Linked DNA regions of Homo sapiens: region 2 is linked to region 1. Evidence: fine-mapped QTL for protein levels in blood plasma. Region 1 holds a variant in brackets. A gene starts in the other region. All regions are shown on their forward strands.

The links. PIP is the posterior inclusion probability: the model's chance that the variant is causal. Protein levels are from antibody-based Olink assays in UK Biobank. Linkage for the fine-mapping came from a reference panel and not from the study's own genotypes, which makes the PIPs less certain.
Region 2: it holds the start of CCL27, and the variant in region 1 is fine-mapped to the plasma level of the CCL27 protein (UK Biobank, PIP above 0.99).

The regions. Positions count from the first base shown.
Region 1 is chr22:46,158,828-46,161,732 of GRCh38, forward strand. The region is part of intron 2 of PPARA (peroxisome proliferator activated receptor alpha); the gene reads left to right. LOC105373074 (a long non-coding RNA gene) reads right to left here. Exons shown (of 2, transcript XR_938315.3): 2 at 2,215-2,495. Among named protein-coding and RNA genes, the nearest start is that of PPARA, 9.8 kb to the left of the region's middle. The variant T/C (reference allele first, on the strand shown) is at 1,311.
Region 2 is chr9:34,662,200-34,665,104 of GRCh38, forward strand. CCL27 (C-C motif chemokine ligand 27) reads right to left here and starts at 458. Exons shown (of 3, transcript NM_006664.4): 1 at 365-458; 2 at 85-217. The coding sequence starts at 434. LOC730098 reads right to left here. Exons shown (of 3, transcript NM_001320038.2): 3 at 1,964-2,905. The coding sequence ends at 2,835.

The DNA.
Region 1 (2,905 bases):
GACTGCAGTCTCATTTTAGCTCATTTTATGAGGCAGCTTGACAACTGGGATAGTGTCTCTTTTTTTTGTCGGGGGTGTTGAGGCTGGAGTCTCGCTCTGCTGCCCAGGCTGGAGTGCACTGGCGTGATCTCGGCTCACTGCAACCTCTGCCTCCGGGGTTCCAGTGGTTCTCCTACCTCAGCCTCCTGAGAAGCTGGGATTGTAGGCATGTGCCACCACGCCCGGCTAATTTTTGTATTTTTTAGTGGAGACGGGCTTTCACCATGTTGGCCAGGCTGGGTCTCAAACTCCTGACCTGAAGTGATCTGCCCGCCTCAGCCACCCTAAGTACTGGGATTACAGGCATGAGCCACCACACCTGGCTTCTGTTCTATCTGTGCATTGGGGATGAAATTAACACAAATGATGTTTAAAGAAAAAAATGCTCAGAGAAGTTAGAAATGTGCTTTAAATTGGAATCATCTCTTAGTATGTAAAAGTTTTTTGTAATAGAAACAAGCAGGGCAGTATTTGACCTGTTGACAGTGTCCTTGGACTTTACAATTTGTGAAGCAGCGTATTTTGCTTGAGTTGTACGATTGTCGTTTTTTTCCCCCCACTTTGACAACTGTTACAGAACCTGTCACCAGATACAGGCAAGGGAGGTTGGGCTTCCCATCTCTGCACGGCTTCCCTGTGATTCACAAGCAAGCAATCAGAAGTGCACAAAAGTTTAGAACGCGATTTTCATTCTCTTCTTTCCTTAGAAAAACTCGCTTTGTTAGCCTTTTCCAGAAAGGAAGGCACTCAATTGTTGTAATACTCAAATCATAAAAAGAAGCCTAGTCTAGTCTATTCAGCAAGGTGTTCTGAAAGAGGGAATTTTTTAAGTTCAATTATGCGAAGATCTTGAAGGTGGGACTCAAAGGAGAGGGCTATCCTGGGAAGAAGGCTTTGGAAAATGAGAGGCATGAAGGGGAGAGGGTATTTAAATGTGTTTGAAGCCAAGGATCCTTGAGAGAAAAAGCTGGCACTAACAGCGTTCAAAGAACTTGCGTGACAAGTGATGACTAATGACACTGAGGGTGGGTTGTGGGTGCCTAGTGAATTCCTCCGAAGCCAAGAGAGAGGTTTCCAGACCCAGGGAAGAAGGTGTGTACACCCAGAAGTAGTGTAGGGACAGAGATTCCGATCACAAGCTGTGACTGGAAGACGCCGACCACCACTGCAGCAGCCTGAAAACCACAGTCTTGAACCGCCAGCGAAGGGCTGGGAAGTGCGGATCCAGGGCTGGTGCACTGAACCCAGAGGAGCAGGCTCCCATTCCCAGC[T/C]AAGGGTGGCAGCTGGCGGGGATCTTTCCAGCAGAAAGCTGTAAGTGGAAGCTTTCAATTCAGAGCAGTAGCAATGCCTTCAAAGTCCCAGGCTTCACGTGGGAACAGAGAATGTGAAGAGTATTTAGCAGGATGCCAATATAAGAAATCTATATTGGTGTTCGTTTGTTTGTTTTTGAGATGGAGTCTCGCTCTGTCACCCAGGCCGGAGTGCAGTGGTGCGATCTCAGCTCACTGCAATCTCTGCCTCCTGGGTTCAAGCGATTCTCCTGCCTCAGCCTCCTACATAGCTGGTACTACAGGCACGCGCCACCATGCCTGGCTAAATTGTTGTATTTTTAGTAGAGATGGGGTTTCACCACGTTGGCCAGGCTGGTCTCAAACTCCCGGCCTCATGATCCGCCCTCTGCAGCCTCCCAAAGTGCTGGGATTACAGGCGTGAGCCACCGCACCTGGCCCAATATTGTTTGTTTATTTATTTCTTGACAGGATCTCACTCTGTCACCAGGCTGGAGTGCAGTGGTGTGATCTCAGCTCACTGCAACCTCCACCTCTCTGGCTCAAGCAATCCTCCCTCCTCAGCCTCCTGAGCAGCTGGGACTACAGGTGCACACCACCACACCCAACTAGATTTTGTGTTTTTTGTAGAGATGGGGTTTAGCCATGTTCAGCTAGTCTCAAACTCCTGGGCTCAAGTGATCTGTCCGCCTTGGCCTCCCAAAGTGTTGGGATTACAGGTGTGATTCATGATGTCCAGCCCAGTATTTTTCTTTCACTCTGGAAACCAAAAATTATTGGCTTTTTTTCCTGTTGCATTCCCTTTACTTAGATGAATCTAGCAAGGTTGGCTGTTAGTGTCTAGGTCAGAAGTCTAAGTGAAAGTGAATATTTAACCACACTCAAGCACAGCTGATGATCTTTAATACTAATAGAGGTATAAGACTTAAAAGAAACAAGAACCCAGAGGGAAAATATGGCCATGGACTCAGAGAAAACCACGGCAGCTTCCATGGACTCATAAAAAGAGCTCAAAACCTAGGAAGTGGATGGAGACTCTTTTTGGAATGAATGAATTCAAATGTGGGCTTTCTTAGTAGATTAAATCATTTTCTAGAAGGAATTTCAGAAGGATGTGTGCCCAATTATGGTATCAGGTCTGTTGTAGACTCTTCAAGGAGGAAGCCTCTGAAAGACAAGAAGGAACAATTAAAAATTAGAATTCAGGTGAGTGGATCACGAGGTCAAGAGATCGAGACCAGCCTGGCCAACATGGTGAAACCCCGTCTCTACTAAAAATACAAAATTTAGCTGGGCATGGTATGGCTGTAGTCCCAGCTACTCGGGAGGCTGAGGCAGGAGAATCACTTGAACCCGGGAGGCGGAGGCTGCAGTGAACCAAGATTGTGCCACTGCACTCCAGCCTGGCAACAGCGAGACTCCATCTCAAAAATAATAAGTAAATAAATAAATAAATAAAAATTAGAACTCAGAAAAGGAATTAATTTCTTCTGAGAGAGAAAAAGATGAGATTCTAGCCTAAGGTGTAACACATCCATCCACCAGGTATCATTTTTATACACGTGAAGTTAAATCAC
Region 2 (2,905 bases), not on the chromosome of region 1:
ATTAGCAGTTAGGGCTGGGGTTGGGATCAGCATTAGGGGTTGGGACTGAGGTCAGAGTCAGGGGTATCAGGGGTGGGAGCTCACACGAAAGCCTGGAGGTGACAGTCCCCGTCAGCCTCCTGCAGTTCCACCTGGATGACCTTCCTCAGTAGCTTGTCTGAGAGTGGCTTTCGGTAGAGCTGAGTACAGCAGGCAGTGCTGGGTGGCAGTAGGAATGCTAGGGGCAACAGGGCCATGTGTTCAGAGGGATCCTGACCAAGAACCTCTCTGCCAGACAGCTGGAGGTTAGGTTGGATTTCCTGGGTCTTTTCAACTTCATCCCATTCACCCAGACCCCCAGCTTTCTATACCCCCAAGTACTCACCTGCTGTAGGGTCTGGGCTCAGGAGCAATGACAGCAGCAGGAGGCTGCAGAAGGTTGGGGGCCCCTTCATGTTGCTCAGCCTAGACTCTTCCTTCTCTCTCTCTCCTCCTCCCCTACCTTTTATCTGGGTGCCTTTTACCTGGGGCACTAGGTGAGTCAGAGGCAGTTGGAGATGTACTGTGTAACCTGTGACACTCCTGGGCCCTAATTCTCGGCCTGTTGCCACAGACTCCTTCCTCATCTAGGATAGCCATTTCCCATGTGCTCCTAAGCTCTGGGCAGTGAAGCTGGGGGAAGGATTAGTGTGTGATGTAGGGACTGATGGAACAGTGAGTAAGGGCAGTCAAGCATCCACAGCAGCATCTAATGATAGACATTCACACTCAAATACGCATAGCCACACATTCAAAGTCACTCCTCAATCACTTGGTCAACCTCACAAAGTCATACTCATGATCAGACAACCGTAGACAAAATTATATAGCCCCGGTTATACTCAAAGTCCCTCTCCCACCCAATTGTGTTTTCACAGTCATCCAATCACAAGCAAATTCACACTAGCACACACAGATTCTGACAGGGGAGTTGTGGGTGGGGTGGGAGCAGAGGGCAGGCAAGCACCAACTTGCCTTCACCTTCTCCTCCCCACTTCCTGGCTTGGCCTGCCTGTCTTATCAGAAGAAATGGATGGGAATGGGTCCCTAGAGCAGGCCCTTCTGGCTGAGGAGGGTTCTTGGCTGAGGCCAGCCCCATTCAGAGAAGCTGGGGGAAGGCCCTTTATGGTAATATTAAGGGTGTTTTGGAGATGCTGAGGTGGGGCAGCTTTCCCCAGGATGATGAGACAGGGAGGAAAGGTGGGGTAGATAAGGAGGGAAGATAAAAGCTCTTTGGTGCTAGGTTACTGTTGTCAAAACAGGTAAAAGGCCCAGTGAATCTTACCTTCCTGTTTTTGTCTAGTCCTGTTCCAGGAATGCCAACCTCTTGCCAGCAGGGGCCTAGGGTCTCCAGATCCAGTCCCTGACTTGTTGAAGACATTGGACTCAAGCACTCAATTACATCTTTGTTTTACTCAAATTCCAGCCTCCTTCCTGGGCCTGGAGGAACATCCCCTCTCCCTACCCGGGTTCAGTCACACCCTCATGTCCAACTGCTATACCCCCTGCATCCCACCCTCCAGCTATAGCCGCTTCTCTCCTAATCCCATACCCAGCTGTCACTCCGTTCTTTACCCCCTCCCTGCAATGCAAAGCTCCTATTCATCTTTATCCAGTCCTTTCCAGGAAGCTGGGAGCTGCCTAGGGTGGGGGTATGCTGCCAAGTTCAGTGCCCCTGGCTCCTTTAAGAATTTCCCACTCCTGGTCCAGGGATCTCAATCTGCAAGTCCTGCTCTATATTTGAAACATAAACCAAGTCATAACACAGTAATCCAGCCCTTATCTTGTTGCAGTCGTCTGCTGTAGGGTCAGCCACTCTCTATGGAGTAGGCTTTCTCTTGGGATAGGGCTTAGGCCTTTCTCTTGTGTCCCAAGGCTTGTTGGGTGTAGCCACTGAGGAAATCCCAAGGAAATCTCCCAGGTTCCTCGGGCTTGTCATAGACCTTCTTCATCACTTGGCTGTGCGCTACATACTTTCTGGTCTTCCCTGGGCTTGTCGGTCCAGAAGTCTTCGGAAGGCAGAAAACAAATGCTTTTGGGTGTGCACCCATCTCTCCCCTTTAAGACCAAGTCTTCTCCCCAGCCACAATCTGCTGTAGCTTTGGCCCCAGCCAGAAACTGGGCCATCTCTTTCTTTAACTTAATCTTGTGGTGCCCTTTCTGGTGCTGGGTCCAGTCCCTAACTGAAGGCAGGCCCACATAGCAGTCCCTGATTCTCACCACTTGAGGAGTTAGTGGGTCCCAGGCTGATTGGGTGACAGAAGGGGGCGGCAAAGAGCAGTGGCCCTTGGACTCTCCTAGGGAGGGAGCAAGAACTTCTAGGTAGGCTGATGCCAAGGATCTCTAAACTTGGGATCAGACTGGAGGAGCCAAAAGTTGGGGTATGAACTGTAGGAAAGGTCGCCAACCCAAGTCGCTCCTCTGTGGCAGGCAGCTTCTAGGAATCTCCCCCTCTTACCATTTACAGCCTGCATCCTACACCTCTGCTTAAAATGTTTTAGATATACTCCCAGCAGAGAAGATTCTTCAGACAGCTGGCAAAGTCCTCGCTCCGAGGAAGGGAGTAACAGGCAGGATTATTTAGTTCTCTTCATATAGGCGACTCACAGTATGGGTTTTTGGGGGTTGGGATTGGGGGAGACAGCCATTGATAGTAACAGGAGGCCTGACACTGATGAGGGGCTTTGACGTGGAAGGGCACCCTTCCAGGGAGGGACGCCCTGTCAGTACGGAACAGAGCCCGTGTGGGGAGGGGCGCTCGGCTCGAATGGCGACAGCGGCGGCAGAGTCAGGAGGTCAGTACGGTGGGCTTCGGTTTAAATCTTTAATGCACTGGCTGGCTGGGCAGCGGCGGTGGGGCTGCGGCGGGGGAAGCCACGACCCGAGC